Linked DNA regions of Homo sapiens. The protein of the gene in region 5 purifies or fractionates together with the protein of the main gene of each other region. This does not show direct contact. Each region holds a gene or a part of one and is shown on either strand. Other genes may lie near its edges.

Region 1 (4,266 bases), on a different chromosome or scaffold from region 5:
ATATGACTTCTTCTGTTAGGAATTATCACCCAGTGGATTATAAGTAATTGCTGAATGGGAAACCTATGATTATAAAGAACAGATCAGCTCACAACTTGTTTCCATTCTGTTTTAAAAGGGAGCACTATAAAAGACATTTCCATTAAACAGTGGGAAATTCAAATATAGACTGGATGTTAAACGACATGAGGGCATTGCAGTTCGTTTCCTTAGATACAATAATTATACTGTAGCTGGAAGAATGTCTTCATTTCTGTGACATACTTTATTTAGGTCTATAGAGGTGAATTGTCATCTTTCCAATTTATTTTAAAGAGATTTTGAAAATATTATATGTATTTATGCAGATATACCCACATAAACATTTGCCATAAATATTTGGCAATGTGGCAAAGTGTTAACAATTTTGAATATAAATGGTTATGTTGAATCGTGTATTATTTTTATCAAATTTTCTGAAAGTTTGAAAATTATCATAATAAAAAATTGAAGGACTAATATTAAAACTGCATTTTCTTAATGTTTCTATTTGGATATGATGGAACTGTATCATTAGGCCAAATTCACAAATTTTATACACTTCACATTTCAATGGTAGATCTTTACTCATTGGCTCTAAGTTGTATAAAAGAATAAAAAAGTGTAAATTAGCAAAAAGGTAGAGTGACTTTAATTTTGAATTTTTTTGTGACATTTGGGGGAAGTCAATTTGATCAAGGAGGCCTGGAATCATTAACAATAACTCAGGGGGAAAAAAGGACTTATCCCTAAGCTATGAAAAAACCATGCATAGAATAGATGTGTTTAAACAACTGATTGGATGACAGACCCCAAAGAGAAGTAGCAGACTAAGACATGGGCAGTGATAGGTCAGGTCTATGTTCTGCTAAAGTTCCTCAGTGTTGATTTCATCCACTGTGAACAGTTACCTCCATAAACAGGTAATTTTTCTCTTTTTTTTTGAGACGGAGTTTCACTCTTGTTGCCCAGGCTGGAGTGCAATGGCGTGACCTCGGCTCACCGCAATCTCTGCCTCCTGGGTTCAAGCGATTCTCCTGCCTCAGCCTCCCAAGTAGCTGGGATTACAGGCGTGTGCCACCAAACTCAGCTAATTTTTTGTATTTTTAGTAGAGATGGGCTTTCTCCATGTTGGTCAGGCTGGTCTCAAACTCCCAACCTCAGGTGATCCACCTGCCTTTGCCTCCCAAAGTGCTGGGATTACAGGCGTAAGCCACTGCACCCGGCCTAATTTTTCTCTTTCTGACATGGATGACTTTCATTGTCTGCAGCTAATTTTTAGTATATCTATGCCCCTGGTCAAGAATTGTTGAAACATCAAGAAGAGGCATTCAGACATCCAAATTCCATGTAAACCCCTAGCACCTCTCTTCTCTTATTCTAACTCTCTGTTCACGTACAGCTCATTTCATCTTTTCCTAGCTTCATATCTATACACCATTCCCTCCAAATCACCTTCACCCATGCACTTTCTGGTCATCTTTCATAGCTTAGAGGTAAGTCCACCTTTCCTTGAGTTCTAATTGATGATTCCAGGCCTCCCTGATCAAATGGACCTCCCCTAAATATTACACACGATTCAGCATTAAACTCATTCCAATTTTTCCCTAATACTTTTCCAAGCAGGGTACAAACAAGAAATCTTCACGCCTTTCTTGACAGAAGCTTTGCTCTCTAGATAATCTTCTACTTCACAAAGATAACTGGGACAAAACAAACAGATATTTGGCAATAGGACAGGAAGAGGGGGCATGAAGAACCGAAAGGAGAGAAGGCCAAGGGAGCTCACCTGGTTGCAGACAGGCTTGTACTTGAGTCCTGGCTTGTTGAGGATCATCTCCAGCTGCCTGCGGTTGAAGTTTGACACCCCAATGGACTTGGCCAATCCTGCATCCTTACACTTCTCCATGGCCTGTGGAGAAAGGGGTTGTGAGGAATTATTTGTGCAGTTGGCTGCAAATCACGGTAAATGCAAGACAGAACTGTGAGAGCAACAACTTTCAAAGTATGACAATGAAAATAGCTAGCAGTGATTGTCAAAAAAAGAAAAATTCAAACAGCAAATAGGGGAAGAAGATAGAGGCAGCAAGAGTAAGAATTTCTATCTCTTCCTTAGGAAACTGGATAGATTAATGCACAAGCAAGGAAAGAGATTCCTGTCCTCCTTGCCCCCAAGTCTTGTGCCCCACTCTCTAAACATTCCTTTTGTGTTTTTCCCTTCATCTCACCAAAGCTACTCTTGTAAAGTTTCTGAATTTCTAGATCTAATGGTGCATATTCCATTCTTTCCTATTGAACCTGGGAAACAGATTTTCTCTTTTTGTCATCCTTCTCTGTGTCCTCTCCGCCAAGCACTCACCTCCCAGGTGGTACAGAGATCCACTATGTCAAATATTACTTTTCCATTTTCATCTGTTGGTGAAAGTTCCTCACCTGGCTGAAATAGAAGCAGTCATTTTAATGATGTCACAAATTAATTTCTCCACTCATAGCTGTAACCCCAGGTACCTTTAAGGACACTAATCCTCCATGAGACAGGTGGTACAATGCTCCAGAAAGTGATATGTGCTAAGTGTTTTACATATGAAGGTATAAGGAATGTATTCAGGAGACAGGCTTCCTCTAATCTCTTACAAATATTATATGCATGGAAAAGGACCATTTTCTAGGTCTTAATCAAGTTTCACAGTTGACTTATGTCACTTTATTCCGCCCTTATAATTTCCTCTATTGAAGTACCTCTCTTTGATTTGGAAATACCTTGATATCCAAAAATAATGGATTGTACTCTTGTACACGGTAGGATTATCAGACCACCTGAAGAGTTGATAGTCTTTGGGCAGGACTGTGAATCACATAGGGTCAGCAGAAGTTGGGAGACCCAGAGGAGTTGTCTTATGGTGATGACCATGAGCCTTGAGCTGCTCCAAAGCCATAATCGCCACCAATGAAAAAGTTTGGGTCAACAATAATAAAAAAAAGTGTTGGAGTTTAGAGATAAGAATAGACAAATGATACATTTTTGTAGACTATTTCATATCCTTAAATGTAGCCATGTCTTTGACTTCCCATTTTACATAACTCAGTAAACTCTTTTGCATTAACTAGCCTGAGTAGTTTTCTGTAACTTTAAATCAAAAGTTATACACTACACAGTAATTCCTGGCTAAATACAGCTTCAAACTCTATTGTGAAAGAAGAGGCAGCAGAATAATAAAGCTTTGCAAGTCCACATTAAGGGTTTCTAATTTAAGAACCATGCATAGTGGCTTCCACCAAATCTGCTTCAGCTTGAAATGGGGAGAGATGGTGGAAACTCATTGTGCATCACATGTGCAGCAGTTTTATTGGGCACCACAACTGCATGAAACTCTGTGTCTGGGAACATCCCAAGAGATGGACTCAAAAGCCACAACTAAGACAGTGCCTTGAAAGAGACTATTGTAATTTCAAGTTTTTGAGGAAGAGGCTTTGAGGTTGCTGTACTCTCTTCTCTTGTAGGTGTGCATTAGAGAAGTAGGATTCAAAATTTACTCGAAAGAAAGGAAATTAGGTGTTCCACTTACGGTTCTTCTTCTGTGTGATAATCCCTACATCCTCCTAATAAAAAGCTCTGTTCAACTATCCAGATAAACAATGTTTATAATGACAGCAGAAGCGCAATTTTATGCTCATACAAACTGCATACCTTTAGAGACATTGGAGAATGAATAAGATAGAGGTCAACATAGTCCAATTGAGCTTTCTTCAGTGAGTTTTCCAAGGCTGGTCGGACCAACTCTGGTCGATGAAAAGTGGACCAAAGCTGCAGAGGTTAAAGAATGGAGGTGATTTTGAATGAATGCTTGAGCAAATCTTATTACTTTGTGCCATCTAGTATTTAGATATTTTCCTACTGCTTCAAAATTTATGACCACTGGCAAACATATTCTCTTCCTTCTCATGATTCCTTTGGCTCTGACCTATCCTTATAAACTTTATTATACGTTGGATGTATAGTTTGTACATCTACTGAATGATAGGAGTAAATTCTTAAAATGTAAAGATTAGTATTAAGTAATAACTATGATGTTACCTGAATTATCTTCAGTAGAGTTTACAACTCATTTTAACAGTCTAATTCTTCTATCCATTCAACCCAATGCTTAAGAATAGCTATTTATGTTGCTTAGAAACTAAAGCAACATAAAAGGGGGGTAAAACAAGTTTTGAACATGCTCACTATGCTGGACACAATTTAGGACAATT
Region 2 (4,266 bases), on a different chromosome or scaffold from region 5:
GGAACTATGGCAAAATTTCAACAGTGACTGGCTTTGGAGAATAGGAACTTGAGGGACTTTTTGGCAAGTTTTCTATATTAAGCACATAGAACTTTTATTTAAAAAAATTAGGCCGGGCGCGGTGGCTCACACCTGTAATCCCAGCTCTCAGGGAGGCTAAGAGGCGGGAGGATAGCTTGAGCCCAGGAGTTCGAGACCTGCCTGGGCAATATAGCGAGACCCCGTTCTCCAGAAAAAGGAAAAAAAAACAAAACAAAAGACAAAAAAAAAAAAAGCGTAAAAAAATTAAAAAAAACAAACAAAACTTTTTTTAGCCTCTCTGCCCCCTATGCCTCCCTTCCTCTATTAAGAAGTTTCTTCTTGGCTGGGTGTGGTGGCTCACGCCTGTAATCCCAGCACTTTGGGAGGCTGAGGCGGGGGGATCACAAGGTCAAGAAATTGAGACCATCCTAGCCAACATGGTGAAACCCCATCTCTACTAAAAATACAAAAATTAGCTGGGTGTGGTGGTACGCGCCTGTAGTCCCAGATACTCAGGAGGCTGAGGCAGGAGAATCACTTGAACCCGGGAGGCAGAGGTTGCAGTGAGCCGAGATTACGCCACTGCACTCCAGCCTAGCGACAGAGCGAGACTCCGTCTCAAAAAATAAAAAAATAAAAAAAATTTCTTCTTTAAACTCAAATTGCAAAAAGTTCGCTGTAACCCTGCCTCCAATACTACCAACTGGGAACTACCAACTGAGCAAGCCTCAGTCCATCCACCCAAGTAGGCCTCATCAAAACACGTGCACACCTACATGTTCGCTATGTACACACAGATTCTCTCTCTCTCTCTCACTCACTCACTCTACCTGTTTGGCCTGGTGGTTATTGACAACATTGATTCTCATTCCGGCAGGATGGGGATGAAGTGGTGCCATGGCTTTCTGCTGTGGAACCTGGAAACACTCAGTGGTCAGAATCCACCCCACAGGGTCCACATGCATTCTCTAGAAGAAGGGGGTTACTGAACTTGATACATGGTGGGCATGCAGCTTTGGTCTTTGGTAAAAGGCACTACAGAGGGCCTTATCCTCCACAGTAGGAAGTAACAGAAGAATCATCAATCCAGAGACCATGCCGGTAACGCACATGTAGGGCTTAATGGACTTGGCTCAGTAAATGTTTGCTGTGGCCGCTGCTGTTCCTATTACCAAAGCTGCTATGAAGGTTAAATGACATTGTTTCCTTTCCCTCTGTGGTGGCAGCTGTGAAGGGTGGCCAGGGCCTTGGACTAGGGGCCAAATCCCACTGGGCCTGGGGGTGGAGTGAGGACTGTAAGGTCACAGATATTAAGGGCCTGCCACATAGCATGTGCTCAATAAATCTTTTGTCCTTTCCTCTCTCTTTCTTCCACCAGTATCTCACCTGGGAAAGTCACCAAATTTCTATGGGCCTCCTTTTTCTTTTTTTTTAGAACTGAGATAATACCTTTCCTTCCTTGTATAGTTCCTTGGCTATAACGTACTTAAAGCCTCTGTAAGGAGCAAAGTCTGTATTATGCCAACACTTGAGAGGATAGTATTTTTGCCCAGTCACTCCTGGCACCTTGCCTCTAAATCTACCTTTGTTACTAGCTTTCTGGGAATTCATGACAAAAGCCACAACTCACCTGGATGGTTTTGGTGAGCTTCAGAGCAGGGGTCACTGTCCCAATGGGTGGGTTTATGAAGGCAGCAGGGGAACTCCTCTTCAAGCTGATCTTCTCCCGGGCATCAGCAACCTGGCGGGGCTTCTGGGGCACCGTGGTCTGCTGCTTGCGAGAGTTCAACATCTCTCTGGCATCCTGCACTTTCCCTTTGATTCGAAATCGGGCATCTTTCTGCAAAAGCTTCTCCCGGGCATCCTTGACTCCCAGTTTGAGCCGGGCATCTGAGAGGCCAATCTTCTGCCGGGCATCAAATCTCTGCTGGAAGGTGGCTGTGCGTGTTGACTGGCTGAGAAGGCCTTGCTGGATCCCAACTCGAGATCGGACACCTCCAACTCCCGGTCTGGCATTAAGCCTGTAAATATAAATTGCAATCAATATTAAGTGGATCTGGGTATCTACAGCAGTCTATGAAAGCGGAACTGTGGTAACACTGGGGACAGAGGAGGCCCTGGAGAATCAGAAAGCGGCTCCTTGCCTGTGATTGAATAAACGATTATGCCTACATGATGACTCCTTTCCTGGTTTCATGATGGCTTTTAACTTTGCATTTTAAGCAAAATTAAGAGAGAGGGGCTGGCAAGTTTTATTCCTAGTTAAGAGTGTTTTGCTTCCTAGACCACGTGTCTTGAGACACCAACATGGACAATAACTTCCCAACAATGCCAGTCAAATAAAATAAACATCCACCAAATCTAATCCCACTCATCTGAGGAGTAACTTTAGTTTCCAAGGCCCATCCCCATCCATGTTCTCACTCAGCCCTCTCAGCACCCTGAGAAGTACTTACTATGCCCACTTTACAGTGGGAGAAGCAGGTTTGGAGAGGCTCAATGATTAACAAAGAGTGTCTCTAAGGAAGGCAGACACCATCTACTGGGCTAAGACCAAGAGAGCAAACATATGGGTCTGGCTTAGAGCTAGAGGAAAACAGAAAACACAAAGACTTGGTAGGAAAGAAAGAAAAAATTGCAATAGCAAAAATATCAAATACAGAAACCACTGAAATTGGAAATGATCGGGTACAGGGTTCGCTATTTGGGTAATGGGTACACTAGAAACCTAATCCTCACCAGTATGCAATATAATCCATGGAACAAACATGTACATGTACCCCCTGAATTTAAAATAAAATATTTTTTTTAACTGGAAATGAATGAAACTCCATAAACAGGCCCCGGTCTCTTTCTTGGGTTCCTCTGTTGGCCTACAGTGGCTTGAAAGTGAACAGAAGGCCCTCCTGAGTATAGCGCTGGAGATCCTCCCCAAGGTCTTTGGGCTTCTTCTGTCGCCTCCCACCCTCAGGCCTCTCTACAATAGCTACCCTCAACGGCCACTCATGCGGCAGACGCTCTGCCTGCGGACTCCTATGTCAAGGGGTGCTCTTTGGGAAACCCTCCCGGATTTCTCCAGGCCAACTCTCCTCTGTGCCTATTATTATACCTGCTTGTTTCCTTTTTTCTCTCCCTACCCTGGGTGGGGCGGGGGGAGGAGAATGGGGTTCAGTCCTTTTGCAGGGCCCAGCACCTCCTAAGCAGCATCGAGCCCTGGCTGAGTGTCAGAAACTCCTGTGGAGCTTCTTAAATACAGAGCTGTCCAGATCCCACCCTAGATGCTGAATCCAAAATCTGGGGCGAGGCCTGGCCATCTGCATTTTTAACTCCATGGGTGATTCTGGAGAAGAGCCATGTTGAGGATCTCTGACCTGCTGTTAGAGGGTAAACTCTGCTGCATAAACGAGTTCCTGTATTGCCTCCCACTTCACTGCCTGGACCTCCCAGGAGGCATCTCTCATACTGGGTCAGTCACTGGCACTCTCCCACTGCTGCATTCCAGTGGCTGGAGTGAGATTGGCTGTCAGTTCCTCTGCTAATGAATACCAGAAGTGCAGCCAAAGGTGAGTCTACCTGGTACCAATAAAAGCAAACGTGGACCTTCATCTTGTTATCCCTCAAATAATGGAAAAACACCTGCTGCCTCCAATATGCCAGTACCAAACCTAAGGCGGTAATACAGACTGAACATCTGTGTCCCCCCAAAATTCCTCTGTTGAAGCCTAATCTGCAATGTGATGGTGGTAGAAGGTGGTGGCCTTTGGGAAGTGATTAAGTCATGAGGACAGAGACTTCACAAATGGGATTAGTGCCCTTTATAAGGAAGAAGCCCCAGAAAGCTCCTTGGCCCCTTCCACCATGTCAGGACTCAGCAAAAAGACCATCTACAACCAGGAAGCAGGCAGGCCCTCATCAGACATGGAATCTGCCAGCATCCTGATCCTGGACTTCCCAGACTCTCTGTGACAAGGAAGTTTCTTTTCTTCAGTTTTGTTTTGTTTTGTTTGAGATGGAGTCTTGCTCTGTCATCCAGGCTGGAGTGCAGTGGCGCAATCTTGGCTCACCGCAAGCTCCGCCTCCCGGGTTCATGCCATTCTCCTGCGCCAGCCTCCCAAGTAGCTGGGACTACAGGCGCCCGCCACCACGGCCGGCTAATTTTTTGCATTTTTAGTAAAGATGGGGTTTCACCGTGTTAGCCAGGATGCTGTCGATCTCCTGACCTCGTGATCCGCCTGCCTTGGCCTC
Region 3 (4,266 bases), on a different chromosome or scaffold from region 5:
GGGACACCACAGACCACATGAAAACACCAGGAGGAAAGTCTCCCCCTATCCCACTGGCAGAGGAGGGGAAACCTTCCCCTCTTCCCAGGGAGGAAGGTGGAGTTCCCCAAACACTCCCAAGACCCTCTGTGGGGTATTAAGGAGGCTGGGAGAGCCCAGGCAGGCTCTGCCCTCCCAAGTTCACCATCATGGAGCAGGAGGACAGACAAGGACAGACTGTTGTGGGACACCATGCTGAGCCCATGACAGAGGTGACCATAGGGAGCTCTGAGATTTCAGTAATGCGAAGGCACTGGCGGGAGGGGGTTTGGCTGTTTGCTATTACAAGTCTGTAAAAGGCAGGGAGAAGCAGGATAAGAGGCTGGAGGGACATGGGGCTGGGTCATGGTAAACACAGATACCAGTCCACAAGAGGACAGGAAGAAACAGAGGTGAAAAGCCCGCTCTGAAACCAGCAGGACCGGTATGTGCCCTGGGGCAAGGCTTTCACCCTCCTTAGGCTTGTTTCCTCAGCTTACAAATGGGCTAATGGTGAGTGTATGCCTAGACTGCTGTGACGAAGACTGAGTTAACACCTGCAGGGCTCAGCTGGGTGCCCGATGGGCATTCGACATCATCATGGGGCCTCTGGCCTGTTAGATGCTTTCCTCTACATGGCAGCTTCGGATCGGCTCTTCATCTCCAGGGCTCCAGACCCTCCAGGAAGAACCTTCCCTAAATTTCCTGCCTCCTCCTCTCTTGCTGCTCAGAGGCTGCTCAGCTGTGCTAGCAAAGGTGGCAGTGGCAGGATCTGGATGGCAGGATTTCTACTATAGAGAGAGAACCCAGGCCAGTGCCAGCCAACCTGGGGTGGGCTCATTCAGAGGGCAGTGGCCCAGCTCAGCCCCTAACATGCCCTGGGACAGCAGCTGAGCCACCTCTAGGTCTGAGTCTGTTCTTCACCTGCTGAATGGGAGGGAAGGTAAATGGCCTGCAGGTCTGGGGTGTTCAAACCACAGGACCTCAGCTCCAAAGAAATCAATGATGCCTAGGAGTCCCCTGGGGAGAGGGGCAGCGGCTCAGGCACCCTCAGGATGACCAGCCTTGGAATGACCCTTTTCTCCCCTTGGTCTCATGAGCCCTCATATTTCCTTTCCCACAGTGGGGACCAAATCTCATTTGAGGACCAAAAGGGGCCAGGGCCAGAGAAGACGACTTCTCCATGTGACTACCCACAGCTCCTGCAGAAAACAGGGAGTGACCTTTGACCCTTAGCATCTGCCTCCACTTCCTCTCTTGGCAAGGGGGATCTTGTTGCTGCAAACCCACACACCTTGAGCAGAGGGTAGGAGAGGTGGTAAGGGGCAACCATCACCTAGCAATGCTTTGGAGGACACCGTGTCGCTCTGCCTGCCTATCTCATCAGTATCCAGGACCACCTAATGAGGGAGAAATCCTTGAAGCAATTTTGCGGAGAAGAAAACTGAGTCTCAAAGTGACAGCATTTGCCCACTGTTACTAGAGAGTAAGGCAAGAGACCCAGCCCTGGGCCTGGTCCAGGGCTTTCTGGAGGCAGTTTCAAACCTAGGCCTCCGATGGCCTTAGTGTCATGCTCTTCTCCAGCCCCTGCCTCGGCTGGCTGTCCCACTACTCCTGTTGTCCTCTCCTCCCCTGCTGGGCCGTGCTGTGAGGGGAGGAGGGGAGTGAGGAAACTACTGTTCTCCCCTCTCCACTCCCAGCCACTGTACAGAGGCAGCATTCACTCTCCTCCCCACCCCAGACCCTCTTACCTGGTGCAGCTGGTGGGTAGCCACCTGGGGGCGGGGGATAGCCAGGGTAGCTCATGGTTAGATCTGGAAGAGAAGACGAAAGCACATTCAGGCTCTGCCTGAGAGCCCCTGCTGGCCCGTGGGACCCAGCTTCTTGAAAGGGCAGCCACCACCACAACTGGGACCCTGCAGAAGAAACTGCTGCATCTGCCCTGCTTGTCGCAGACCAGTTCACTGTCTCCTGCTGGTGCCTCCAGCTAGAAACAGTACCCACCAGCATGCTGCCTGACTTCTGGGCCAGGGCCACACCCCCGGCCCCACCCACAGTGACAGGATTCACTCCCCATGAGCCAGTTTCCTTGAAAGGCCCTCTCACTGAAGCTTTGCTCCTGCCTCTGCTGGCAAGGGTGCAGTGCGCCTCTGGGCCTGTTCTCCCACCTCAGAGGTAGAGACGCACTGCCTCATTCTCAGGACTCCAGGTCTGTCTATTTATCTTCCTGTGTCCTTATTGCCATCCCTCCAGCAACAGGGGAAGTCAGAGGCCCCTGTCTCTCTTCATTCTCCAACCTCTGGTTCATCAGGCAAGGGGACCTGGTAAGGTATGGAATCATCGTTCCTAGAAGCAAAAAGGGCCCTCAGGAGGTTCATCTGATGCAGGGTGAAGAACCAGGGCAAATGAGGCAGCATCACCCTGTTTCTGCAGTAGAGGCTGCTGATTAAGAGAAGTAAGTGATTTGCAGATCTGTCAGTAAGGGAGGAAGAGCAGCCTGGACAGGTGCCAGGTGAGACACCTGCTCTCACGAAGTCCCTCTGAACACGGATCCCTTGGCAATGTCCCCTGCCAGTTAAATTGTGAGGAGGGACACAGATCTGCTGTGACACCAGCCACATTGTGCAACCTGCCTGCTCTTGCTAATAGCAGCTGCTGCTGCAGTCTGCAGAGACACCCAATGGCAGGCGGACATGTGAGGAAACCTGCAGGGTCCCTCAACAATCACACCTGCTCGTCTCGAGTATGTGGCTTCTTTTTACACACTGGGTTTCACGCTGCAATGCATATCAGAATCACCTGATGGGATTGTTAAAACACATTGCTGGGCTCCACCACCAAGAGTTTCTGAGACAGTGGAACCAGTTTTTGCATTTGGAACAAGTTTCCAGATGATGTTACTGGTCCAGGGAACTCACTTTGAAGACCACTGTTCTAGCCACGCTATCCAACTATAAGAGTCTAGCTGCCCTTCATATCTATCTTGAAGAACTGGGCATATTGGGTTTTGTTTGTTTGAGACAGGGTCTCGCTCTGTCACCCAGACTGGAGTGCACTGGCACAATCATGGCTCACTGCAGCCTGGACCTCCTGGGCTCAGGTAATCCTCCCGCCTCAGCCTCCTAAAGACATGTGCCACCACACACAGCTAATTTTTTTTTTTGAGAGTCTTACTATGTTGCCGAGGCTGGTATATGCTGTTCTTTTTAAGTTTTTTTATTATTTATTTTTATTTTTTTGAGACAGGGTCTCACTCTGTAACCCAGGCTGGAGTGCAATGGTGTGATCTCGGCTCACTGCAACCTCTGCCTCCTGGGTTCAAGTGATTCTCCTGCCTCAGCCTCCCAAGTAGCTAGGATTACAGGCGCCCGCCATCATGTCTGGCTAATTTTTGTATTTTTAGCAGAGACAGGGTTTCACCATGTTGGCCAGGCTGGTCTCGAACTCCTGACCTCAGGTGATCTGCCTGCCTCGGCTTCCCAAAGTGTTAAGATTACAGGCATGAGCCACCATGCCTGGCCTACTTTTATTTTTTAAACAGCGTCTCACTCTATCACCCAGGCTGGAGTGCAGTGGTGCGAGCTCAGCTCACTGTAACCTCCGCCTCCTGGGATCAAGGGATTCTTGTGCCTCAGCCTCCAACAGGAGGGCGCAACCATCCCTGGCTAATTTTTGTATTTTTAGTAGAGATGGAGTTTCGCCATGTTGGCCAGGCTGGTCTGAACTCCTGGCCTCAAGTGATCTGCCCGCTGCGGCCTCCCACAGTGCTGGGATTACAGGCATGAGCCACTGTGCCCAGCCTACATGCTGTTTTTAAGGAAGCTAAAGAACTTCCTTAAGGTACCACCGGTCCCCATAGGGTGGGCCTGGTTTTCAGCCCTACGGGTGTAGTCATTTGTTTGGGTCAGTGGGTCCAGAGGTGACCGTAGGCAAAGCCCTATGGCTTTGGAGAAAGCTGGAATTGGCTCCCTGTAGTGTGGACCAAGGACCTACTCCTTGCAGTTTTCGGTCTCTCTGAGCCCCTAAGCACGTGGTGGATGAGGTCCCCGGTGGCATCACCTTCAGAGAGGGTGTCCCTGAGGCTGGGTGGGCTGTCAGTACAAAGCCCTCCCCGTCCCGGCCCCAGCCTGACCCTTCTGCCCAGACTCTGCCAAACCCTCAGACTTCACTGGTGAGGAGGTAATCTGGGGGATGTAAATGACCAGTAGGCCAGGAACCTTCTAATAGAAGGAACTGCCCGACAGGTGA
Region 4 (4,266 bases), on a different chromosome or scaffold from region 5:
TGGTGAGGGCTTGTATTGATTGTAGGCACCCAAGAAGGCTTTCAGTGGATGAATAACCTAGTCAGATACACATTTTAAAAAGACACCTCTGGCAGTAGTGTGGAGAATGGATGAGCAAGGCCAGAAGGCAGGAAGCAGGCAGGGGAGCCCAGTGAGGAGGTGGCTGCAGCCATCAGGCATGAGTAGATGACCCCTGAACCAAGGCAAAGCAGGAGGGCGGGGTCTGAGAAGGATGTGTGTTGTACATTTGGGAGGAGAAGCACCAGGACCGGGCAACTGATTGGGTGTGGAGAAGAAAAGGGGACGAGTCTGGGAAAATGCCTGTATCTGGGCTTAGGTAGCTGAGGGGATGGCGGGGCCTTCTGAGATCAGGGAACACTGGAGAAAAAGAACTAGCTTCTTGGGGAAGGGCTGGAAAGGTCCAGTTACTGGGTGCTGCCAGGCAAGGGAAGGCTGGAAAGGGCTGGCCAGTCTCCACGTCCCCGGTGGAAGCCCACCTTGTGTATAAGCACCGTGCCGCACAGCCCCCGCCGGCCTGCCTTCTTCAGGACAGTGAAGGCGCTGTCGTCCCCAATCACCACCATCTCCACCGGGATGCCTTCAGCCCGGGCCTGCTCCCGGGCCAGGCCGAAGTTGAGCCGATCCCCAGTGTAGTTCTTCACGATAAGGAGCGTCCCCACTGCGGGAGCAGCCGGAAGGGCTCAGTGTGCTTACTGTGCCCTCCCTGCCGCAGCCCCTCCTGCATGCCAGGCTTACCTGTGCCGGCCTGGGCCACGGCCCTGATGGCTGCCAGGATGCTGCCCACTGCCGGGGAGGTGAACACAGCTCCCGCGATGACCCCAGTCAGCATCCCCTTCCCTATGAAACCTGGAGGTGGAAGGAGTGGAGTGAGCATGCTGGGTGGGACTCGCGCCTGTAGTCACTGGGGCTTCCCACACTCCGGGGGTCATGGTTTGGTGAGCCCTACTGTGTGCTTGGTGCTCAAAGATCCCCCAGGTCTTCACATGGCTGACTCCTTCTTAGGAGGCATCTTAGAGAGGCCTTCTGTGACCTCCCAGCCTGAAGCAGTCACCAGCTCCCTCCCCAGGGACTCACTGTTCCTTTGCCCCATTTTACTGTCTTTACTAAGTCACTTAGCACCCTCTGAAATGATCTCATTTACTTTCGTGTTTACTTGGTTATTGTCTGTCTCCCCTAAGTAGAATATAAGCTCCACGAGGGCAGGGACCTTGCCTGTCTGGTATCCCTAGTGCCCAGTACAGCGCCAGGTACACAGTGGGCTCATGAGTGTTTGCCAAATGAATGGATTTTGCTGAAGGAAGACAGGAAGCAGAGAAATGACGCGCATCCTAGTCCCTGCCCTCCAGCAGCCCTCAAGGAGAGTCTGCGTCCCTGGCTCCACACAGGAAAGAAGCCAGGACAGTCCACAAGTGGGACACAGCAGGTGGGAATTCAGAAGAGGGGTGCTGCTGTAGGCTGGAAGAGTCAGGAAGCCTTCATGGAATCGGGGTGGGTCTGCTGGGCTTGGAGGGTCCAGAAGATTCATGGAATCACCGACTCTCAGAGCTAGAAGGACTTGAGAGATTGTTTGGCCCAACTTCGTAGATTTGTAGATGTAGAAACAGATTCAGAGAGGCCGTGATGGGCCCCTGATCCCAGCCGGAGGGAGTGGGAGAGTGGGAAGTACCCCAGTTCCTGATTCTGGGCTGAGCTCCATCCTGCACTTCATGGCAGCACTAAGGATCCCCCAGGAGGCCCTGTCCACTCCACTAGTACCCCCTGCCCCACCCCAGGATACTCACCAGCATGGGCAGGCTCATGGCCAGAGCCCCCACCCGACAGCAGTGCCACCCGGCCCTTGAGGCTGTCCAGGTCAGAACGGAGGGCCACGCGGTGGCCCTGCAGGAGCTGCAGGTTGGGGTTGCAGGCCACCAGGCCAGCAAGAGCGTCATCAGCACAGCCAGCCACCGAGTTCACCAGCTTCTTGGAGGTCTGCAAGGGAGGAGTGAGAAGGAGGTCAGAATGTGGTCAGTACAGATACCCCCATCCTGCGCAGCCACACTGCTGTGGTGTAGACCCCTCTCCCGCATCCACCTAGGAACTCCAGGAGCACAGGACTTCCTTGAGTTGGGCGACATCTTAGGTGGGTATTTCTGTGAGTTTTCAGTAATGTGTGACTTTCTATTCAGTACCTAATTTATGAAGTGTCTTGCACCATACCTTCAATTTATTCTGAAAAAATGGCTGCAATACAAAGAAAATGGGGGAGTGGTTGCCTGCAGTGTAAAATATTTTAATAAAACTGGGGCCCAACACCTTCTTCTGTCAAAAGGAAGAAAAGCCTCAGGCTGAGGCTCCTATGCTGGGGGAGGAGCTGAGCAGGTTCCACAGCCACCGCTGCTCCCTGGTGCTCCAACGCGGGGCAAACATTTCCCCAGCCTCTTGGTATGCCAGGCCCAGCACTAGACACTATGTGTAGAGATAACAGCTCAGGTGCAGTGGCTCATGCCTGTAATCCCAGCACTTTGGGAGGCTGAGGCAGGCAGATCGCCTGAGTCCAAGACTTTGAGACCGGCCTGGGCAACATGATGAGACTCCATCTCTACAAAAAATATGAAAAATGATCCAGGCATGGTGGTGCATGCCTGGAGTCCCACTAGTCGGAAGGCTGAGGTGGGAGGATCACTTGAACCTGGGAGGTCATGGCTGCAGTAAGCTGTCATCGTGCCACTGCACTCCAGCCTAGGTGACAGAGTGAGACTCCATCTCGGAAATAAAAAAAGAGATAACAATGCTGTTCCTGCCCTCAGTGGAAACACAGCAGAGGTCACAGCCATGTGTAGTGGGCACTGCTACACGAGGAGCGCACGTGCACCATGGGAGCATAGAGGAGGGGCCGCAGCCTCCCGAGGGGCCTGGAGGTCTCTGGGAAGGATAAGCAGGACCGGGGTAGGGAAAAAGGGGGCAGGAGACATGGGAGGAGGGAAAAGGGAGGCTCTTCCAGCCAGAGGGGGAGCATAAGCCAAGGCCTGGATGAGTGAATAGTGTGGTGGTGCCAGGAAGCACGGGTGACCAGCAGGAAGGGGTGGGGAGGAGAGGACTGGCCACAGGCAGCCTCAGGAGGGGTTGTGGACAGGCTGGTGGAGGGTTACAGAGCAGTGCCGCCAGGCTTGGCTGAGTGGATACAGGGTGCAGACAGAAGTGAGTAGCGTGGGGGCCAGAATGGAGTGTGGCTTGAGCTCTGCTGTTACAGGGACTTGGGTTCAAATCCCACTTCTGCCTCTCATTAGCTGCAGGAACTCAGGGAAGATACATCATTGTCGGGAGCTAAAATTCTTCCTCTGTAAAATAGGGATTTACTAGAACAGAGTATATGCCCATGATATAGTGGAAACTCAATCAAATGAAGCTACTCCCTTTTTCAAACAGGCTGTGAAAAGCCAGAGTCTGCTGAACAAGGGCTGCAGCCCCTGGCTTTGTCCTGAAGACAGAGTGAGACTGGGGCCCAACGTGGACTCAGAGGGCTGGGCTCCCACCGCCACCTGGTGGCCCGGTGGGAACCTGCAGCTGAGCCAGGTCCTGGCAAGGTGAACTTCCGGCTGTGGCTTCTTCCTGAGCTTGCTAGCACCAGCTCCTTTGTACAAAATTTGGCTCTGCTGCCTCCCTGCCAACCTGTCCTGCATCCAGCCAGGGCCAGGGCTAAGCCACCTGCTTCAGAGTAGCCTAGGTCTGTAGGGAGCAAGAAGAACAATAAGATTGGTTCCATTTGCTGAGCAGTGACTAAGAGCCAGGCCCAGTTCTAAGTGTTTTTGAGCATGTCTCATTTAATCTTCCCAACAGGCCGGGTGTGGTAGCTCATGCCTATAATCCCAGAACTTTGGGAGGCCAAGGCGGGTGGATCACCTGAGGTTGGGAGTTCGAGACTAGCCTGATCAACATGGAGAAACCCCATTTCTACTAAAAATACAAAATTAGCTGGGCGTGGTGGCACATGCCTGTAATTCCAGCTACTCGGGAGGCTGAGGCAGGAGAATTGCTTGAACCTGGGAGGCGGAGGTTGTGGTGAGCCGAGATTGCGCCATTGCACTCCAGCCTGGGCAAAAAGAGCAAAACTCCGTCTCAAAAAAAAAAACCCAAACTAAAACAAAACAAAACTTCCCAACAGCCCTATGGAGGAAAGATGAGCCCAGTGAGGAAACTGAGGCACAGTTAAACTATTTTGCCCAAGGTCACACAGCCAGCAGGTGTCCAGGTCTGCCTGGCTCC
Region 5 (4,266 bases):
CAGGCCACCGGTCTGTAGACCATCTAGGCTGGCACTCCTGCAGAGTCATATTATGTAGCTCAGGGGAGCCAAAGTATGAAGTAATATAAACAGCAAATAGGACAGACTTGTGTGTTCTTTTCCCTGGAGCTGTTTCATTAACTTCTTGTCACCAAGGGGATGTGGAGGGAAGTGAAGTTTGTTATTGCTTTTTCTTTTGCAGAGTAAGAAGGCAGTGCTTTCCATCACCACTGGTGGCAGTGGCTCCATGTACTCTCTGCAAGGGATCCACGGGGACATGAATGTCATTCTCTGGCCAATTCAGGTACCTCATTTTCTTTTCTTTTCTTTTTTTTCTTTGAGACGGAGTCTCACTCTGTCATCTAGGCTGGAGTGCAGTGACACCATCTTAGTTCACTACAAGCTCCGCCCGCTGGGTTCGAGCAATTCTCCTGCCTCAGCCTACTGACAGGCACCCGCCACCACACTCGGCTAATTTTTGTATTTTTTAGTAGAGACGGGGTCTTGCCATGTTAGCCAGGCTGGTTTCAAACACTTGACCTCAAATGATTCTCCTGCCTCAGCCTCCCAAAGTGCTGTGATTACAGGCGTGAGCCACTGCACCTGGCCAGGTACCTCATTTTCAACGAACCTTCAGGGGAATTCATTCATTGAGCCTTCGTGGGGTTCAAAACCTCAAGATAGCATCTGAAAATAGATCTTGAGTTGTGAAGATGAAAGCATGGTCATAATTCAGAATGATGGGAGCCTCCTTTAAGAACCTGCCTGCCTTCCCAGGTGCCTGTGTGTGAACACACCTGCGTGTGCATGTGTTCAAACAGCATTCTGTCCCAGCCAAGGACTAGTGTGAATCACTACTCTTGATTTGTATAGCCGTGGGCCCTGGTCTCACCAGATGACTGACATCTCTCTCCAGCCTTCCTGTCCTTCTCCAGGTTGCTGATACAGTCCCATAGACTATTAGAGCCCAAGACAATTTAAGAAATGATTTACTGGGAGGCTGAGGCAGAAGGATCGCTTGAGCCCAGGACTTTGAGACCAGCCTGGGCAACATATAAGACCTCATCTCTACAAAAAAAAAAAACAAAATTAGCTGGGTGTAGTCATACACCTGTGGTCCCAGCTACTTGGGAGTCTAAAGTGAGAGACCCAGGAGTTCGAGGCTGCAATGAGCTATGATCACACCACTGCATGCCAGCCTGGGATACAGGGCGAGACCCTGTTTCGAAGAAAAAGGAAATAATTTAGTCCAGCCAGTTTATACATGGATAAAACTGAAGCCTGGGGTGGGCTTATTGGTGTTACCAAACCCTCAAGATAATTTCTATAAAGAGGGAGGTTGGAGAGAAGAGCCAGTGAGTGGCCACTTATGAAAATCATTTATCAAGACTCATCTGGGCCTGTAATCCCAGCACTTTGGGAGACTGAGGCAGGCGGATCACTTGAGGTCAGGAGTTCGAGACCAGCCTGGTCAACACAGTGAAACCCTGTCTCTACTAAAGATACAAAAATTATCTGGGCATGGTGGCGCATGCCTGTAATCCCAGCTACTCGGGAGGCTGAGGCAGGAGAACCGCTTGAACCCAGGAAGTGGAAGCCGCAATGAGCCGAGATCGTGCCATGGCACTCCAGCCTGGACGACCGAGCGAGACTCTGCCTCAAAAAAAAAAAAAAAAAGAAAAAGAAAAAAAGGACTCATCTAGTTATATGGAGAGGCAGAGAAATGCACCCACGCAGGTCTTGGTGAGTCACCTGCCAAGAAACTGAGACTCCCTAAAGTAACAGAACTTCCAGCCTTCTTGGCAAAGGATCCAGGTTGGCACAGTTTCAAGGTTTATGCATTTAAAGAAGAACACACCTGAGAAGGCTAAAATTGGTAACGGCTAGGTAGAGGGTAAGAGAGAGACGCTAGCTCTGAACTGATTCTCTAGTGTGCCTGAGGCCTCCTTATCAGAGTGTCTTACTGAGAAGCCCAGACCAACTTCTGTTGTTTATAGTACAACTGCATGGAATTGGTTGACTTACCTCTCTGTGCTTTCTGTATCCTCAGAGTGGCATTCTGCATTTCTGTGGCTTCCAAGTCTTAGAACCTCAACTGACATATAGCATTGGGCACACTCCAGCAGACGCCCGAATTCAAATCCTGGAAGGATGGAAGAAACGCCTGGAGAATATTTGGGATGAGACACCACTGTATTTTGCTCCAAGCAGCCTCTTTGACCTAAACTTCCAGGCAGGATTCTTAATGAAAAAAGAGGTACAGGATGAGGAGAAAAACAAGAAATTTGGCCTTTCTGTGGGCCATCACTTGGGCAAGTCCATCCCAACTGACAACCAGATCAAAGCTAGAAAATGAGATTCCTTAGCCTGGATTTCCTTCTAACATGTTATCAAATCTGGGTATCTTTCCAGGCTTCCCTGACTTGCTTTAGTTTTTAAGATTTGTGTTTTTCTTTTTCCACAAGGAATAAATGAGAGGGAATCGACTGTATTCGTGCATTTTTGGATCATTTTTAACTGATTCTTATGATTACTATCATGGCATATAACCAAAATCCGACTGGGCTCAAGAGGCCACTTAGGGAAAGATGTAGAAAGATGCTAGAAAAATGTTCTTTAAAGGCATCTACACAATTTAATTCCTCTTTTTAGGGCTAAAGTTTTAGGGTACAGTTTGGCTAGGTATCATTCAACTCTCCAATGTTCTATTAATCACCTCTCTGTAGTTTATGGCAGAAGGGAATTGCTCAGAGAAGGAAAAGACTGAATCTACCTGCCCTAAGGGACTTAACTTGTTTGGTAGTTAGCCATCTAATGCTTGTTTATGATATTTCTTGCTTTCAATTACAAAGCAGTTACTAATATGCCTAGCACAAGTACCACTCTTGGTCAGCTTTTGTTGTTTATATACAGTACACAGATACCTTGAAAGGAAGAGCTAATAAATCTCTTCTTTGCTGCAGTCATCTACTTTTTTTTTAATTAAAAAAAATTTTTTTTTGAAGCAGTCTTGCTCTGTTACCCAGGCTGGAGTGCAGTGGTGTGATCTCGGCTCACTGCAACCTCTGCCTCCCAGGTTCCAGCAATTCTCCTGCCTCAGCCTCCCTAGTAGCTGGGATGACAGGCGCCTGCCATCATGCCTGACTAATTTTTGTATTTTTAGTAGAGACGGCGTTTCACCATGTTGGCCAGGCTGGTCTCAAACTCCTGACCTCAGGTGATCCGCCTACCTCAGCCTCCCAAAGTGCTGGGATTACAGGCGTGATCCACCACACCTGGCCCTTGCAATCTTCTACTTTAAGGTTTGCAGAGATAAACCAATAAATCCACACCGTACATCTGCAATATGAATTCAAGAAAGGAAATAGTACCTTCAATACTTAAAAATAGTCTTCCACAAAAAATACTTTATTTCTGATCTATACAAATTTTCAGAAGGTTATTTTCTTTATCATTGCTAAACTGATGACTTACTATGGGATGGGGTCCAGTCCCATGACCTTGGGGTACAATTGTAAACCTAGAGTTTTATCAACTTTGGTGAACAGTTTTGGCATAATAGTCAATTTCTACTTCTGGAAGTCATCTCATTCCACTGTTGGTATTATATAATTCAAGGAGAATATGATAAAACACTGCCCTCTTGTGGTGCATTGAAAGAAGAGATGAGAAATGATGAAAAGGTTGCCTGAAAAATGGGAGACAGCCTCTTACTTGCCAAGAAAATGAAGGGATTGGACCGAGCTGGAAAACCTCCTTTACCAGATGCTGACTGGCACTGGTGGTTTTTGCTCTCGACAGTATCCACAATAGCTGACGGCTGGGTGTTTCAGTTTGAAAATATTTTGTTGCCTTCATCTTCACTGCAATTTTGTGTAAATTTCTCAAAGATCTGAATTAAATAAATAAAATTCATTTCTACAGACCCACACTCATTGGTATCAGTGAAGCTAATGATAGTGGAATCTAGTGGGAGGCAGATCAGAGGATTCAATCACAAACTGCAGCTGGAAGCCCCTTGGTGACTGGCTTGACAACTCACCCAGCAGGGCTGCTTCCTACTAAATGGTAATAGAACAACCTATTCAGTCCTCTCAGGGAATTCAAAGGAAAGAGAGTGGTATAGAAATCAAGAAAAACAGGCTGCGTGCAATGGCTCACGCCTGTAGTAATCCCAGCATTTTGGGAGGCAAAGGCGGGTGGATCACCTGAGGTCAGGAAACCCAGTCTCTACTAAAAACTTAAAAAATTAGCTGGGCGTGGTGG
Region 6 (4,266 bases), on a different chromosome or scaffold from region 5:
GCCTAGCAGGTCAGTCTATAAAAATCAGTTTTTGGCCGGGCGAGGTGGCTCACACCTGTAATCCCAGCACTTTGGGAGGCCAAGGCGGGGTGGATCACTTGAGGTCAGGAGTTCGAGACCAGCCTGGCCACCCACGCAAAACCTTGTCTCTACTAAAAATACAAAATTAGCTGGGTGTTGTAGCCCCAGCTACTCAGGAGGCTGAGACAGGAGAATTGCTTGGACCCAGGAGGTGGAGGTTCAGTGAGCCAAGATCGTGCCACTGCACTCCAGCCTGGGTGACAGAACAAGATGCTGTCTCAAAAAATAATAACAATAGTTTTCATCTTTCATCTCAGCATTCATTCGAGATTAATTCTGAAATTAGAAGCATGCTCTGCCTGACCCAGGTTGTCTGAAAACAACCTGTGGGTGTGTCCACTTCTATGCGAAAATAAGTAAGTAAAAGATTTGCAGCAAGTTAACCATTTTAAGATAAGAAGACGTAAATAACATAACTTTTTTCCACTTCCTGCTGGCAGCAGAAGAGCTAAGTAACAGAGAGAGCCTCCTTCACCTGTAACTCCTCTTCAGGAGGCAGGGAGCCACGGGAAAGGTGACCACGCTCCCTTCCCCACTCTAGCAAAGCTACTTCATGTGGATGGGCCTCTTTTGATATCCCTGGGCCTGAGCCCGGCCACGCTCTGCAGCTCACGCACTACACAACAGCGGCCAGAAGGTGGCGCCGGGGAGGCATCCACTCCCGACCGCCTTTTGCTAAATCGCGCAAAAGCATGGTCTGGACAAAGCATCTCTCAGCTCCATTGTTCCCAGAGGCAGCTGGCCACTGCCTTTTGAGTTTATGTCCTTTTGTGTTGTCCTAAGTCAATATTTAAAGGCGTTTTTAACTCTAAAAGTAGTTGAAAATACCACAATGAGGAACCATTAACCCAAGAAGGAATCATTAGTATAACTTTATGATCCACTTCAGATGGTCCCAGGCCTAACGATGGTTCCACTTTCATTTTTTGACTTTACAATGGTGCACAAGCGACACTCATTCAGTAGAAACTGTTCCCCAAGTACCCAGACAACCATTCTGTTTTTCACTTTCAGTACAGAATTCAATAAACTGCATGAGACATTCAAGACTTTATTATAAAATAGGCCTTGCGTTAGATGATTTTGCCCAACTGTAGCCTGATGCAGGTGTTTCGGGTCGGCCAGGTGAGGCTATGATGCTTGGTAGGTGAGGTGGATTAAATGCATTTTCGACTTGAGATATTTTCCATTTATGATGGGTTTATCAAGACTTAGCCCCATTGTAAGTAGAGGAGCATCTGCATTATTTTTAAAGGCTATATTTCCTATGTGTCTTTTTTGTTTTCGTTTATCTATTGGTCTGAATGCTTCTATATCATGAATTTAGCAAGCAGTTTCTATATACAGATATAATGTTATTTCATTGCTGTAGTAACTTTGGTTTGTTTTGGCCAAAAATGTATAAATTGCTATTTCGATTTTAGAGTGTGTTTTCCTTGGCTTTCTTTCCTTTTTTTTTTTTATTTTTTATTTTAAGAGACAAGGTCTCACTCCCTGTCATCCAGGTTGGAGTGCAGTGGTGCATTCACAGCTCACTGCAGCCTCAAACTTCTGGGCTCAAGTGATTCTCCTGCCTCAGCCTCCTGAGAGGCTGGGACCACAGGCATGTGCCAGTACACCCAAGTAATTTTTTTCTTTTTCTTTTGACAGAGTCTCACTCTGTTGCCTGGGTTGGAGTGCAGTGGCACAATCTTGGTTCACAGCAACCTCCACCTCCCGGGTTCAAGCGATTCTCCTGCCTCAGCCTCCTGAATATCTGGGACTACAGGCGCCCACCACCACGCCCAGCTAATTTTTGTATTTTTAGTAGAGACGGGGTTTCACCATATTGGCCAGGCTGGTCTCGAACTATTGACCTCATGAGCCACCCACCTCGGCCTCCCAAAGTGCTGGGATTATAGGCGTGAGCCACCACGCCCAGCCTTAAAATTTTTTATAGAGACAAGGTCTCTCTATGTTGCTTAGGCTGGTCTCGAACTCCTGGGCTCAAGCCATCTGCCCATCTTGGACTCCCAAAGTGCTAGGATTACAGGCGTGAGTCATCGCATCTGGCTGCCTTTGCTTTCTTTCTTAGTGTGTGTGCATGTTTGTGTACAGTTAGAGCAATTTGTATCTTGGAAAAATCAGTCTTTCTTTCTTTCTTTCTCTTTCTTTTTCTTTTTTTTTTTTTTTGAGACAGGGTCTTGCTCTGTCACCCAGGCTGGAGTGCAGCGGCATGATCATGGCTCACTGCAGCCTTGACCTTCTTGGGCTCAAGCGATTTTCCCACCTCAGCCTCCGGAGTAGCTAGGACTACAGGTGCACGTGACCACGCCCAGCTAATTTTTGTATTTTTTGTAGAGACAGGGTTTTGCCATGTTGTCCAGGCTGGTCTCGAACTCCTGAGCTCAAGTGATCTGCCTGCCTAAGCCTCCCAAAGTGTTGGGATTACAGGCATTAGCCACCACCAGAAAAATATTTTCATAGATGTTGCTCATAAAAATCTTGTGTGATATTGATCATCATTACATTAAAAAAACAAAAAAAGCTATCCCCTTCATCCTAGGTGAAGAAATGGAGAATTTAGATTAGGTGGCTTTCCCAAAGTCACACCACTGGGACCCAGACCTCTTGACTCCCGGTGACATCCTCTGGTTAACTGCATGACAAACCTCCACCTCTATTTTCAGATTCTTAAAACCCATTTCCATAAGATGGGCAGTCTTCACATTATTGGGGGTTGTGTTACACTGGATGGGGAGGCTTGTGATTGTTGTCACTCTTCCACCCCTCCCTTCTGCATGGAGTAAAAATGCACAAGGCAGATTTACCATAGACGGACACCCCTGCCCTGAATTCTGAGTATTTCATCATCAAATGATGGACAGCAGTTCCACCCCAGCAGAATCCCACGATGCCAATTTTCTGGGCATGACACTGTTGTTTCAGATACTTCAAGATAGCACTGATCTCTCTAGAACAGAAAGAAAAAATATTCAAGAATCAGGCTTATTTTGTGAACCCCTCAAAGAGCTGTGCTGATGATAACAGGGCTGTATCAGCAACTGTTTTTGAAGTTGCCAAGGTTTCTTCTTTTGGGAGCTCCACCCTTACTACCTCTGGCCCAACTGATGCATCATCCCAGCACATCTTCCTGCCAAGCCCAGCCCTCCTCCAACTGCCTGACAGCTGCAGGCAAGCTGGGCTCTTCCCAAAACATAGGTCCAACTGCCTCACTCCCAGCTGAGAGCTGAGCAGTCTTCCACAGCCTGGGGATGAAGGCCACAGCCCACAGCACGGTTCGTAAGACCCGAGTCCATGATCTGCTCCCTGCAGAGTGCCCCAGTCTTCTCTGTCCCCTGAGTCTCCCAGGAGAAGAGTCTCCTCTCTCCTCTCTCCCATGAGCAGCCATAACTATGGGCAGACGCCCAGACACTCTCTGACTTCACACGTTCACTCTCTCCCCAAAACTCCCCACTCTGCATTGCTCGTCTCCTCCCCCTGCCGCCCAGTGAAGCCAAATTTGGAACGCCATCAGGACTATTTCAGCCATGAGGGGACCAAGAATAGTGGCCCTTGTCTGGCAAATGATTCATGTGCAAACTGATTGTTTGGAACTCAGAATACATTTTCAACTAGAAGCAATGTACCAAAGTGGAGGTGGGCTGCACACGTATGTTTATTGTAGCACGATTGCAAAGATATGCAACCGAAGCGCCCATTGACCAATGAGTGGATAAAGAAAATGTGGCCTATATACACCATAGACTATACTCAGCCATAAGAAAGAACAAAATAATATCTTTTGCAGCAACTTGGATGGAGCTGGAGGTCATTTCTCTAAGGGAAGTAACTCAGGAATGGAAAACCAAATACTGTATGTTCTCACTTATAAGTGGAAGCTAAGCTATGAGTAGATTCACAGAGGCACATAGAGTGATATAATGGACTATGGAGACTCAGAAGGGGGAGGGTGGGAGGGTGTGAGGGCCAAAAAACTATATATTAGGTAAACTGTACACTACTCGGTGACAGATGCACTAAAATCTCTATTTTCATAGATGGTGCTCATAAAAATATTGTTTGATATTGATCATCATCACATAAAGAATGCTATCCCCGCTGGGTGCAGTGGCTCACGCCTATAGTGAGACCCCATCTCTATTTTATTTTAAAATTTTTAATTAATTAATTTCTTTTTTTTTT
Region 7 (4,266 bases), on a different chromosome or scaffold from region 5:
CTGAAATACTTCTGTATATGCTGTCAATCAGAAAACTACCCTGGAGCATTAGAAAAATTCAACAAGAGACTTGATTTAATCAATCACATTGTCGGACTTTGAAAATATATCAAAGGCACTGATTTTTAAAAATCATCTTTTTCTCAAGAAGAAAATGGAAAAACAAATTATCTTCATTCAGTGAGCCCCAAGTTTGGGGTTTGAGGGGGCTTACAGACATTGAAAAATCAAGTCTTGTGTTATATTTTTCTCCCAGGTGACTTTTTTTGAGGTTTATGGGCAATCTGGCTGGTAAGACATGATTCCCTCTAAGAAAATATAGGTGCTCAAACAGGTAACCTCTCCTGCTACTGTTTTTATATGTGTGTTTAACTTCATTTAAGATTTGTTTCTGCTTTGAGAAGCATCTGTTCATGTACTTTGCCCACCTTTTAATGGGGTTTTCTTTTTCTTGTAAATTTGTTTAAGTTCCTTGTAGATTCTGGATATTAGACCTTGGTCAGATGGATAGATCGCAAAAATTTTCTCCCATTCTGTAGGCTGTCTGTTCACTCTGATGACAGCTTCTTTTGCTGTGCAGAAGTGCTTTAGTTTATTAGATACCATCTGTCAACTTCTGCTTTTGTTGCTATTGCTTTTGAAATTTTCATCATAAAATCTTTGCCCATGTCTATGTTGTGAATGGTATTGCCTAGATTTACTTCTAGGGTTTTTATAATTTTTGGTTTTACATTTCAGTCTTTAATCCATCTTGAGTTAGTTTTTGTATAAGGTGTAAGTAAGGGGTCCAGTTTCAATTTTCTGCATATGGCTAGCCAGTTTACTCAGCACCATTTATTAAATAGGGAATCCTTTCCCCACTGTTTGTTTTTGTCAGATTTGTTGAAGATCAGATGGTTGTAGATGTGAGGTCTTATTTCTGAGATCTCTATTCTGTTCCATTGGTCTATGTGTCTGTTTTTGTACCAGTGCCATGCTGTTTGGTTACTGTAGCCTTGTAGTATAGTTTGAAGTTGGGTAGCATGATGCCTCCACCTTTGTCCTTTTTGCTTAGGACTATCTTGGCTATATGGGCTCTTTTTTGGTTCCAATTTTAAAGTAGTTTTTTCTAATTCTGTGAAGAATGTCAATGGTAGTTTAATGGGCATAGCATTGAATCTATAAATTACTTCGGGTAGTATGGCCATTTTCATGATATTGATTCTTCCTATCCATGAGCATAGAATGTTTCTCCATTTGTTTATGTCCTCTCTTATTTCCTTGAGCAGTGGTTTGTAGTTCTCCTTGAGGAAGTCCTTTGTATTCCTAAGTATTTTATTCTCTTTGTAGCAATTGTGCATGGGAGTTCATTCATGATTTAGCTCTCTGCTTGCCTACTGTTGGTGTATAGGAATGCTTGTGATTTCTACATATTGATTTTGTATCCTGAGACTTTCCTTAAGTTGCTTATCCACTTAAGAAGCTTTGGGGCTGAAACGATAGAGTTTTCTAGATATTGGATCATGTCATTTGCAAATAGACACAGTTTGACTTCTTCTCTTCCTATTTGAACACACTTTTTATTTCTTTTTCTTGCCTGATTGCCCCAGCCAGAACTCCCAATACTATGTTGAATAGAAGTGGTGAGAGAGAGCATCTTTGTCTTGAGCTGGATTTCAAGGGGAATGGTTACAGCTTTTGTCCATTCAGTATGATACTGGCTGTGGGTTTGTCATAAATGACTCTTCAGACATTTCTCAAAAGAATACACTTATGCAGCCAAAAAACATGAAAAAAAGCTCAACATCACTTATCATTAGAGAGCTGCAAATCAAAATCACAATGAGATGCCATTTCATACCAGTCTGAGTGGCAATTATTAAAAATTCAAGAATTTTTGAATTTTGAATTTTTAATATGCTGGCAAGGCTGTGGAGAAACAGGAACACTTTTACACTGTTGATGAAAATGTTAATTAGTTCAAGGATTGTGGAAGACAGTGTGGCAATTCCTCAAAGACCTAGAACCGGAAATACCATCTGACCCAGCAATTTCATTACTGGGTATACACCCAAAGGAATATAAATCATTCTATTATAAAGATACATGCACACATATGTCCACTGCAGCAGTATTCACAATAGCAGACATGAATCAATCCAAACGCCCATCAATGACAGACTGGGTAAAGAAAATGTGGTACATGTACACCATAGAATACTATGCAGCCATAAAAAGGAACAAGATCATGTCTTTTGCAGGGACAAGGATGGAGCTGGAAGCCATTATCCTCAGCAAACTAACACAGGAACAGAAAACCAAACACTGCATGTTGGAAGCTGAACCATGAGAACACATGGACACAGAGAGGCAAATAACACACACTGGGGCCTGTCAGGGAGGCGGTGAGAGGGAGAGCATCAGGATAAACAGCTAATGAATACAGGTCTTAATACCTAGGTGATAGGTTAATAGGTATAGCAAAACACCATGACACATGTTTACCTATGTAACAAACCTGCATGTCCTGCACATGTATCCTGGAACTTAAAATAAAATTAAAATTTTTAAAAGATTTGATTTTGTTGTACTAGGATTCTTTAAAATGTAATATACTGCAGAAAATCCATAATATCTCTAGTACTCAAAGATGAACTAGATAAAGTAATGGATCTGGGAAAGGAAGAGAGAGGATGGGGCAAGAGACAAATGGACAGCAGTTACCATTCAGTGTGATAAACTCTTCAATACACACTCATTAAGAGTACTACTCAGAGTATTTTCTCCTTTTATCTATTTTTTTGCTTATGAAGAATGTACTTTTATTTTTTAAAGCAATTTCTCATCCTGATCTTTTCTTTTCCTATTGCCACCACACCACTTCAGACTTTCATTATATTATACTGGTTTCTCCATGTCAGACTTCTCATCCTTTTACTTACCCCTTCTGCCAAATTAGTTTTTCAAAGTACAATTCTTATGACTTGAAGACATTATTTAATGATCCTTTACCAATTATTACATGTTATTATACCTACAAAATAAAGGATTAAAAACTGAACAGAGTATTTACTGAGAGTCTGGAAGAAACCAAATAGTTTGTTCATCTCTCAGTAAACAGATATTATATTATTATTTCCACTTTACAGATTAGGTAGCAAAAATTAAGTGTAGGTAATAAGTGGTGAGCCAACTAGGAAGTGGTGGACTGTAGATTTGAACTCATTTTTGTCACCATTATGCCATCACGTTCTAGTCTCTTACTGTGGCTATCTGAGTCAACAGGTACTTTTTAGTTAGACACAAACTTTGTTACAGCCAACTACTGTCCAGACAGACAAAAACAAAAAGCATTACTCTGTCCACTTCTACTTTACTGTACAAATCATTCCCTCTACCTAGACTTCTACACTGTAATAGTTAAAATTTTAATAATTTGTGCATCTTAAATGCCACTGCCATCTTTCTATTAAATCTTTCTCTTACAGCCCCAAATGCATGTGACTACTTCTTCCTCTCAATTCCTACAGTACTGACAATTTATTGATTGGGTAATGTTATTTGTTATAGATTTCCTGAGTATTTGCTCTGTGCCAGGCATTGTGATAGGTTCTGGGAAATAAAAAGAAATATATACTATCATTGGCTTTGAAAAGCTATTAGTTATACCACATTAGAGCACTCATCACAGCCTGGCTGGCATTATAGTTACCACTTTAAGAATCTCATTGGCCCTTTCAGGTTGTAAGAAATATGTAAGGCAGATAGATCTTGCTTTACTTATCTGCACATCCCCGTGAACATCTATAATAATGCGTAGCACATAGTGGGGACTTAAAAAATACTTGCTAAAGATTGAATGATGACTGAATGATACATGATTCACATGTTTGGAATTCTATCTTCTAACTACTTCATAATCCCCTAGACTAAGTTGGGAATCCCTTCCCTACACTCTTCCTAGTCCTCCCATAATGCTCCATGTTTATCTCTATTAGAGTTAAACATCAACGTTAAACATGGAAACACAGAAATATAGAGTTAAACATAATGAGGAAACTAAGGACCAGAAAGGTGATGTTGTTATGCTAGAGGCCACGCTGCTTTCAACAAAGTGGAAACTAACGCCAAGACAGAATAGAATGGATTTTATCCATTATATCATGTTGTCTCTCATGACTCAACAGACAGTTCAGCACTTCAATAAACACAAAGAAAGTTTATTAGTTTACCCAAATCCCATCTATAAAGAATTTCAATGTGCATTTTAATGTTATTTAGAACATA

What was found.
Region 1: the proteins of NQO1 (region 5) and AKR1C3 fractionate together in Homo sapiens (co-fractionation; one large-scale study listed by BioGRID). This does not show direct contact.
Region 2: the proteins of NQO1 (region 5) and POLDIP3 fractionate together in Homo sapiens (co-fractionation; one large-scale study listed by BioGRID). This does not show direct contact.
Region 3: the proteins of NQO1 (region 5) and ANXA11 fractionate together in Homo sapiens (co-fractionation; one large-scale study listed by BioGRID). This does not show direct contact.
Region 4: the proteins of NQO1 (region 5) and TKFC fractionate together in Homo sapiens (co-fractionation; one large-scale study listed by BioGRID). This does not show direct contact.
Region 6: the proteins of NQO1 (region 5) and CMBL fractionate together in Homo sapiens (co-fractionation; one large-scale study listed by BioGRID). This does not show direct contact.
Region 7: the proteins of NQO1 (region 5) and LYPLAL1 fractionate together in Homo sapiens (co-fractionation; one large-scale study listed by BioGRID). This does not show direct contact.

The regions. Positions count from the first base shown.
Region 1 is NC_000010.11:5,096,991-5,101,256, reverse strand, and holds part of AKR1C3 (aldo-keto reductase family 1 member C3), read right to left. Parts: intron 3,824-4,266; coding exon 3,707-3,823; coding exon of another isoform or gene 3,659-3,706; exon of another isoform or gene 3,081-3,658; intron 2,456-3,080; coding exon 2,378-2,455; intron 1,931-2,377; coding exon 1,808-1,930; intron 1-1,807. UniProt on the Homo sapiens protein: Cytosolic aldo-keto reductase that catalyzes the NADH and NADPH-dependent reduction of ketosteroids to hydroxysteroids.
Region 2 is NC_000022.11:42,601,119-42,605,384, forward strand, and holds part of POLDIP3 (polymerase delta-interacting protein 3), read right to left. Parts: intron 2,043-4,266; coding exon 1,652-2,042; intron 990-1,651; coding exon of another isoform or gene 939-989; coding exon 852-938; intron 1-851. UniProt on the Homo sapiens protein: Is involved in regulation of translation. Is preferentially associated with CBC-bound spliced mRNA-protein complexes during the pioneer round of mRNA translation. Contributes to enhanced translational efficiency of spliced over nonspliced mRNAs.
Region 3 is NC_000010.11:80,171,038-80,175,303, forward strand, and holds part of ANXA11 (annexin A11), read right to left. Parts: intron 1,833-4,266; 5' UTR 1,825-1,832; coding exon 1,770-1,824; exon of another isoform or gene 234-1,769; coding exon of another isoform or gene 1-233. UniProt on the Homo sapiens protein: Binds specifically to calcyclin in a calcium-dependent manner. Required for midbody formation and completion of the terminal phase of cytokinesis.
Region 4 is NC_000011.10:61,335,667-61,339,932, reverse strand, and holds part of TKFC (triokinase/FMN cyclase), read right to left. Parts: intron 4,094-4,266; exon of another isoform or gene 3,996-4,093; intron 3,730-3,995; exon of another isoform or gene 3,684-3,729; coding exon of another isoform or gene 3,543-3,683; intron 1,993-3,542; coding exon 1,803-1,992; intron 868-1,802; coding exon 757-867; intron 680-756; coding exon 498-679; intron 1-497.
Region 5 is NC_000016.10:69,709,066-69,713,331, reverse strand, and holds the end of NQO1 (NAD(P)H dehydrogenase [quinone] 1), read left to right. Parts: intron 1-202; coding exon 203-304; intron 305-2,050; coding exon 2,051-2,356; 3' UTR 2,357-3,931; downstream 3,932-4,266. UniProt on the Homo sapiens protein: Flavin-containing quinone reductase that catalyzes two-electron reduction of quinones to hydroquinones using either NADH or NADPH as electron donors.
Region 6 is NC_000005.10:10,283,463-10,287,728, forward strand, and holds part of CMBL (carboxymethylenebutenolidase homolog), read right to left. Parts: intron 3,035-4,266; coding exon 2,892-3,034; intron 1-2,891. UniProt on the Homo sapiens protein: Cysteine hydrolase. Can convert the prodrug olmesartan medoxomil into its pharmacologically active metabolite olmerstatan, an angiotensin receptor blocker, in liver and intestine. May also activate beta-lactam antibiotics faropenem medoxomil and lenampicillin.
Region 7 is NC_000001.11:219,193,966-219,198,231, reverse strand, and holds part of LYPLAL1 (lysophospholipase-like protein 1), read right to left. Parts: intron 1-4,266.